2 linked regions of the Homo sapiens genome follow. The gene in region 2 interacts genetically with the main gene of each other region. Each region holds a gene or a part of one and is shown on either strand. Other genes may lie near its edges.

Region 1 (3,500 bases), on a different chromosome or scaffold from region 2:
TTTCCAGTTTTTCTATAATGAATGCATATTGTATTTACATTTAATTTTTATAATTCATAGGTTGTAAATAAATGGTGCTTATTTTGTAACATTACAATTCTTAATAAATCACTGATGTGTGATAACCTTAGGAAGTATGTAGTATTATATTTAGGAAGTATTTAGGTTATATTTTATGTTAGTATAAAATGGATGAATGTCATACACTAGACTTGAGAATATTAACCCTAAGCAGTATTAATGTTTTGTTTTCTTTTACTTTTTTACTTCACAGTGATGCGGCTGACTAAGCCTACTTTATTCACCAATATCCCAGTAACATGTGAAGAGAAAGACTTACCTGGTATGGCACATGCTTTCCTCTATTTGCACCTAGGGAAAGGTTGAAACCTGAATTGCCTGCATTACCTTGGACTAAGCCTAGCCCTGTAAATTTTATGCTAACCATTTGCTGGATTCTTTGTTGCCTATTTTTGTATCATGTGAAAGGTGGCCATCTGAGTAACAGGCCTTACTTATACTCTACAAGTCCAAATTATGTTGATATCCTATGGCAGTATGAGACAGTTTAAGATACATTCATATTCATAATACTATTAAAATTGCCTTTATCCTCAAATGTTGCATCAATGTATGTATTAGCATTCCCTTTTTTTTTTAAGAATTATTGGGGCTTTCTCTAGTATATTTTCTATCTCATGACGTACATTTTTCTTTGTTTCTAAAGTTTCCATTCCCTGTGAGATCAGAATTTTTTTGACATGCTTTGTTGTATTAAAATCTAGAAGTTAGACTTTTTAAATATCATCTTTGTCAAGAGGTTGTTTTTTAAAATATCTCTCCCAGCTATTTCTTTATATAAGTAAAAGTTATTTAAAGGGTAGATGTTAGAATTTTATGTTTTTCTCTTCATTCAGGAGATCTCTTTAACCAGCTGATGAGAGATGATCCTTCAACCGTTAATGGTGCAGAAGTTTTAATGTTGGGAGAAATGCTGACTTTACCACAGAATTTTGGGTAAGAATGACATATTCACATAAGAAACCTTGTAAAGCCATTACAAATTATGTTTTCAAAACAGAACCATGGGATGGGGAAATGCTCATGATACATTTACCTTTTTTTTTTTTTTTCTGAGATGGAGTCTCGCTCTATTGCCCAGGCTGGAGTACAGTGGTGCCATTTGAGCTCAGTGCAACCTCCACCTCCTGGGTTCAAGCAATTCTCGTGCCTCAGCCTTCCGAGTAGCTGGGATTACAGGCGTGCGCACCGCTCTGGCTAATTTTTGTGTTTTTATTGGAGACCGTGTTTTGCTATGTTAGCCAGGCTGACCTTGAACTCCTGACATCAGGTGATCCACCCGCCTCAGCCTCCCAAAGTGCTTGGATTGCAGGCATGAGCCACCACGCCTAGGACATGATACATTTGAGGGGCAAAAATATTATTAAAAAATCATACTATGTGATTATGGCTTTCTGTTATTAAAAAAAAAAGATATATACCAAAATAAAATGTTAATAGTGGTTCCTAGCATAATAGAATTTTAACTTTCTTCTTTAGATCTTACTATATTTTGTAATGGCCACATAGTCTTTTAACTACTAATGTAAACATCTTTTTCAGAAGCCAGTCTTTGTTTTTTTGCATCATAGTCCTCTCCCAAAATGAGTTATCAGACTTGTCAGCTAATTAGGAACTCTAAATTTATTTCTTCTGTTATCCTTAGCTGTATTATTATTCTAGATTAATAATAAGGTAGAAGCCCCTGGTTCCACTCTGTTTGCAACAGACAGAATTTGAGACAAAAAGAAATTTTACAGATTGTTTTTATAGTTTTACAGAATGTGGTCATTGACTAGTGTCTTGAAAAACTGGGAAATATATTCATGTAAAAAGTATAAAACTAAAATAAAACCACTGGTGATTTTTATTCAAGTAACCTAGGAAATAAAATAAATTGGTAAAAATACCCCAATATCAGTAACTTAGATCTCTTCTAGATTCAGGGAATAAGTTATTTCAAGAATGGAAACTTGGCTCTCTCTAACCTATTCAGATACAAATCCTAAGACTTTAGCATAGGTCTAATTTCAATGAGTCTTATCTCTAGTGAGGTTGGCATTTTGTACAGTAGTCAAAGGCCAAGATATATCATGTTCTATAGATTACGTCTGTATTTTGAATTGCACTAGGTAATGAATGAGTGGCCTAGTGTGAACAAAGGAATGTTGAAGCAGTATTTCACCAGATTTCTATCCTTCAGTAAATGTTTCTCCATTTGAAGTTCTTAGTGATTCTCAAACAGATTATTTAATGTAAAACCTGATGGGCACAGTGGCTCACGCCTGTAATCCCAGCACTTTGAGAGACTGAGGCGGGCGGATCATGAGATCAGGAGATCGAGACCATCATGGCTAACATGGTGAAACCCCGTCTCTACTAAAAATACAAAAAATTAGCTAGGCGTGGTGGTGGGTGCCTGTAGTCTCAGCTACTCGGGAGGCTGAGGCAGGAGAATGGGGTGAACATGGGAGGCGGAGTTTGCAGTGAGCCTAGATCGTGCCACTGCACTCCAGCCTGGGTGACAGAGCGAGACTCTGTCTCAAAAAAAAAAAAAAAGAAAAAAAACCTGAATGGATTTCTGCCTAAATACTTATTTTATTTTACAGGAATATATTTTTGGGAGAGACCTTTTCCAGTTATATCAGCGTTCATAATGATAGCAATCAAGTTGTAAAAGACATATTAGTAAAAGTAAGTAACATTCTTACTTGGGATGTATTTTAGTCTTTAACAAAGGTTTTTTTTTAGGCCGGGCATGGTGGCTCATGCCTGTAATCCTAGCACTTTAGGAGGCTGAAGCAGGTGGATCACCTGAGGTCAGGAGTTCAAGACCAGCCTGGCCAACATGGTGAAACCCCATCTCTACTAAAAATACAAAAATTAGCCAGGTGTGGTGGTGCACACCTGTAGTCCCAGCTACTCGGGAGGCTAAGGCAGGAGAGGCTAAGGCTTGAACCCGGGAGGTGAAGGTTGCAGTGAGCCAAGATCACGCCACTGCACTCCAGCCTGGGTGACAGAGTTAGACTCCATCTCAAAAAAAAAAAAAAGAAAAAAAGGTTTTTTTATATCTATTATGTTTTTGGCACTTCATTAAATGCACGTTTGATACAATAATTTTTAATTGTCATTAACAAGCACTAATGAATGCCTACAGTTATAAAGTATTATGTTAGGCATGAAAACATTTTTCCTATTCCACAAGATTTGTGATTGCTTGGGTGAGAAAATGTACTAGTCAAAGCTAAATAGCAGTTTAGTATTTGTTAATGTATGTCATTAACATGGAAGATGAAAGATCACTGGAGATTATGTCAATCTGGAAGGTTTCTTGGGGGAGAGGGAATGCGAAGAGGATCTTGAAAGAATGGGAGGATACAGATAACAAGGCAAGGGAGACATGGTAATCAGAGGCAGAGACATAGTGGTACACATGTGTT
Region 2 (5,491 bases):
TATCATATTCTCTGAAGGCCTTTCTTGGGTATTCTTTTCCACATTTAAATCATCTCACTAAACCTTTTTAAGGTTATAAAGCTATTGGAGGGAAGTTTTAGTCTTTCTATGATGGAAATAGTTATTCTGTCATTCAAGGTATGAAATAATAAGAGGAGAATACTTGGAAAATAAAGAGAATTTTTATCCTTTTATTTTACCAATTTTTTCCTTGTGGCTGAAACATGATGAGTGACAGCTTACTGGTGGCTTAAATTTGGTCACCGACCACTAGGAGCTGATAGTTCAAATGTGAGAAGAAATAAACAAAGCATAGTATGTAAACGAGATGTTTCTGATGATCGTAGGTGGGTGACCTTTAAAATCAGGAGTATAACGAACAAGAAAGAACAGAGAGAAATAAATGAGATGATTATTTTTAGATGAATTGAACTGTGGATAGACATCAAAACAGGGAATAAGCAATTTTTGAATTAGACGCATTAAGCAGTAGGGAGCCAGTGAAGGGCAGTGACCTAGTCAGAGCAACAGATGACACAAATTTTTCTTACTATGGCATTTTATTAATAAATTGGTTATATAAGAAATAGGAAGCAGAGATTTAAAAAATGAAAGTTTTTTAATAGTGTAAGGGTTGTAATGCAAACCCTAAACAAAAAGGGGCCATAAATTAAAAGAAAGATACTTAAGTAACCTAAGCAACTTAAGTGGGATTCAGAGGGAGTGAACTAAGACAACAATATGATGTAATGCCTGGAAAACTGAGGTATTTTTAAAACTTTGCACTAAGTATATCGTCAAGTACTATGGCTTTTGAGTTTTTTGATTTGACCTATAGTAAGAAATGTATTTTACATCATGACCTAGTAAATAAATTGTGTATACACCTACACATATAACAAAATATTCGTAAATTATACCTTTATACGTAAGTTCCATGAAACAGTAGATGGAACTTATGTATATAGGTGATAGACTCTGATATTTTATATTGTTTCTTTTTTTTTTCCCTTCCCAAGATGGAGTCTCACTCTGTCGCCCAGGCTGGAGTGCAGTGGCGCGATCTCTGCTCACTGCAACCTCCGCCTCCCAGGTTCAAGCAATTCTCCCGCCTCAGTCTCCTGAGTAGCTGGGATTACAGGCACCCACCATCATACCCAGCTAATTTTTGTATTTTTGTAGAGACGGGGTTTCACCATGTTGGCCAGGCTGGTCTTGAACTCCTAACCTGAGGTGATCCACCCGCCTTGCCTCCCAAAGTGCCGTAATTACAGGTGTGAGCCACCGCACCCGGCCTATTGTTTCTTTTTTTAAAAAAAAATTCTGATTATTTCCTACTGAGTGATTTTTACAATTCATTGAGTCATGACACAGTTTGAAAAATCCTACCCAGGCTTAACGCAGTGTCTCAGTCCTGTAGTCCTAGCAATTGGGAAGGCCAAAGTGGGAGGATCACTTGAGTCCTGGAGTTCAAGACCAGCGTGAGCAACATAGTGAGACTTTGTCTCTGAAAAAATTAAAAAAAAAAAACTGCCCTGGAAAAGCCTTGGCACGTGTATACACAAATATATATATATATTTTATATATATATGTAAAATACATATATTTTAATATATGTATTTTATATATATATAATACATATATATATAATGCTTATTGTAACATTGTTTGTAATAATGAAAAATTATAAATAACTTTGCCTTATAGAGAATTTAAGTTGTATTGCATTCATTCAGTAGACTGTAATTCACCAGTTTAAAAACAAACTAGATCTGCATGTATTATATGGATAAATTTGAAAAACATAGTGTTGACCAAAGTTAACAAGTTGTAAAACAGTAGCTACATCTGAATTTTTAAAGACATGAAAAAGAAATACTATTTATGGTTATAAACATGAGGATAAATGCAAAAACATGCATGAGAATGAAAACACCAAATTTAGGTAGTGGTTACCTTTAGGGTAAGAGGGAGGAGAGTGGGATCAGAGACACACAGGTGGTGATTCTGCTGTTGCTGATTTTATTTCTTAAAGGGAAAGAAACCTGAAATCTGGCAAATAATATGTCAAGGCTAGCTGGAAGTATGTGGACATTATATTATACATCTTTTTTCATGTATAAACATGTAATAATAAATAATATATAAAAAGTAATAAATATAATAATAAAGTTTTTTAACTTTAAAAATAAAACACGCTTTAAAAGCAACTGCTACCTCCCCTCCCCCCCACTAATAAAATTCTAGTATGATAAAAATGAATACCCTGCTTTCATTGGAAATTTCTAGCTTACACTTTCTCTCTCACTCCGTTTCTCCTTTTCTGTCTCTCTCTACTCCTTCTCCCTCCCTCCCTCCCTCTCTCTCTCTGTCTATATCAATTTTGCTTTAAGAGGAAACTGGGAATTAAACAAACTGGGATCAATGATGTAATGTATCTTTAGTACTTTGGATTTTCTAAACAATTTCCTGTAGTTTCTGAGAGTTGTATTTTAATCACATTCATAGAAACTCAGTCAGTCTGGCCAATGGAGGAGAATAGTATAGTCCTGCTCTTTCAAATTATGTTAAGCAAAATGGCTTTCTTCTCTGGGAATGCACTGTACTCAAAGATATAAGGTATTAGACTAGAGGCTCCCTTAAGTTACGGCTAGTTCTAACGTTCTAAAGCTCTAACACAGAATCTTTCTTCTGTTGGATTGTTAGTTCTTTGAAACTAGACAGTGTGTTCTAAATACTAACCCTCATAATACCCTGAATAATACAGTTAGTATGTTAAAAATTAATTAAAAGAATGGTCATCACAACTTTGAATTCCATGGTACACTTTCCACAAATGCTTCTGTTTGTACCATGTTGATTAGTAATGTGACCCTTTCTTTCCCATGTTTAGTGATTTAGAATCTAGAAGAGAAGTAAAAAAAGAAGAAGGTGAAGCTTTTGCACGAGAACATGGACTCATCTTCATGGAAACGTCTGCTAAGACTGCTTCCAATGTAGAAGAGGTAAATAAGAGGCCCTTTAAAATCTTCATCTTTATACTTAATAGAAATGTTTTATATATCTTCATTTTACTTATTATTTAAGTTTTTAGTCGGATGGTCTTTGAACATCATAAAGTAGGAAAGTTTCTTCCCTTTGAAATCCCTTGTAACATTCACCTTCTGTCAGACTCTTAAATCATATTGAGCCTTCTAAAGCCTGAATGTTTTCTTACATTTTTGTACGTATTTTCACTCCCTCCCTTTTTCTAAACAATTTCCTATAGTTTCTGAGAGTTATATTTTAATCACATTCATAGAAAGTCAGTCTGGCCAATGGAGGAGAATAGTGTAGTCCTATTCTTTCAAATTATGTTGAGCAAAATGGCTTCTCTGGGAACCCACTGTACTCAAAGATATAAGGTATTGGACTTCTTCGTGTTGCATGGTAGGGAAATCTTTTTTGTGTTGCATGGGAGGGAAACAAGGAACCACACTAATGAAATTTGGAAATGTTTCAAGACAGCAGAACGTTTGTAGCTATTTATATCCACTTCTGCTTATTTTTTTAATTTTATTTATTTTTTTAACTGTCAATATATTACCACATCACCACTTCTGCTTAAAGTATTCTATTATTGCTGTGTAACATTTTACAAAGCATGAGAATTCTGTTTCATCTATTGATGAAATTTGTATTATTTCAGTTATTTCCATTGATGAACCTGAACTATTGGAACTTTTCTGAACACAGTGTATTCTTTTATGCTCTATGTGTTTGTGTTTGGAGGTAGTATGTATATACATATTATAAATAGATGATTACGTAGTTGATCCTTTCTAAGGTAAATGTATTACTATACTGTTATTTTATAAAAAGAGGTAATGAAGCTAAGAAAAGTAGTAGTTTATCCAAAGTAATACTTAGTTCCCGATTTCTAGATAAGAACAGCTTATAAGAGCAACTACAGAAAGTAGTTCTAAAAAACAAATGAGTTAAGAATCACTGCCGTAAGGATAACAGAGGTCAGGGTCCTGGGCAACAGCTAGCATGTGCCTTCAATGTAGTAAGCAGTCAGTAAATATTTATTAAGAATGATACTTGGAGCTCTTCTGATTAACCCTTGAACCTAAAAATTGACTACAGTAATTCTACAGCATTGGTATTTTCACCGAAGAATTCTTTCTTAGGTAAAATATTATACAGTCATGTGTTGCTTGACAAAGGAGATACATTCTGAGAAATATGTCACCAGGTGATTTCATCGTCACGTGACCATCATAGAGTGTACTTACATAAGCCTAGATGGCATAGCCTACTACTGCACCTACTACACACTTCCCTTAGTAGACCTTGGTGCCAGAGGAATGACACAGTGATGATTTCCCTTGGTTTTCTTTTTGCCACATACCCGAGACTGGGTGCTAGAGAAACAGGCAACCTAGAAAGGTCAACAGGCACAGAAAAAGAAAGTCTTCTAGCCAGAGAACCAGGAAATAGGCAGGTCAGAACAGTGTTCGCAAGCCAGAACACTCTTAGAAAGTAACCATTCTACTGTAGCCAAACATCACAGAAAAAATTGTGGCTCTGCTTCCACAATCCCCAGGCAGTAATGAAGTAGCACCCTACCACCACCATTTCCCTTGTTGGAGTGGAGTGAGAGGAAGCCAACTAAACAGTGGTTTAAATAAGACCCAGAGTCTCATAACATAGTATCTAAAATACCCATGTTTCAATAGAAAATCATTCATCATACCTAGAACCAGGAAGATCTTAAATTGAATGAAAAAAAGATAATAGGTGCCAACAGTGAAATGACAGTGGTGTTTGAATTATCTTACAAAGATTTTAATGCAGCAATCATTAAAATGCCTCAACAAACAAGGAACATGCTTGAAACAGAAGAGTCTTAGCAAACAAACAATCTGAGCAAAAGAAATGCAAGATAAAAAAAAGAACCAAATAGGAATTTTAAAATAAAAAAAAATACAATAATTGAAATTTTAAAACTCTTTCAAAGCTCTTTGTACACTAGAAAAAAAAACTTAGTGAATGGACTCAACAGCAGAATGGAGATAAAGGAAAGAAATAGTGAACTGGATGATAGAACAATAGTAACTACTTAGTCTAAACTGCAGAGAGAAAATTGAGGAAACAAATGAACACTACCTCAGGGACTTATAGGACTGTAACAAAAGCTGACGTTATATGATGCATCATAAGTCCTAGAAGGAGAGGAAAAAGGAATGGCTCTGAAAAATACTCAAAGAAATAATGGCTGAAAACTTCTTAAATGTGGCAAAAAGTATATAAACCTACAGATTGAAGACAGCCCCAAAGAGGTTAAACCCAGACAAATCCACATGATGACGAACCTCTGTATGGTCAAATTTCTGAACGTGAAAGACAGAAAAAAAAATCTTGAAAGCAGCAAAAAATAGCACCCTACGTATAGGGGAAAAACAGTTCTAATGATAGCAGATTTCTCATCAGAAACCATGGAGGACA

What was found.
Region 1: changes in RAB2A (region 2) and TRAPPC13 together harm fitness more than expected from each alone (negative genetic interaction), as found in Homo sapiens cells (one large-scale study listed by BioGRID).

Annotation. Positions count from the first base shown.
Region 1 is NC_000005.10:65,635,027-65,638,526, forward strand, and holds part of TRAPPC13 (trafficking protein particle complex subunit 13), read left to right. Parts: intron 1-274; coding exon 275-343; intron 344-917; coding exon 918-1,017; intron 1,018-2,669; coding exon 2,670-2,754; intron 2,755-3,500.
Region 2 is NC_000008.11:60,588,964-60,594,454, forward strand, and holds part of RAB2A (ras-related protein Rab-2A), read left to right. Parts: intron 1-2,894; coding exon 2,895-3,006; intron 3,007-5,491.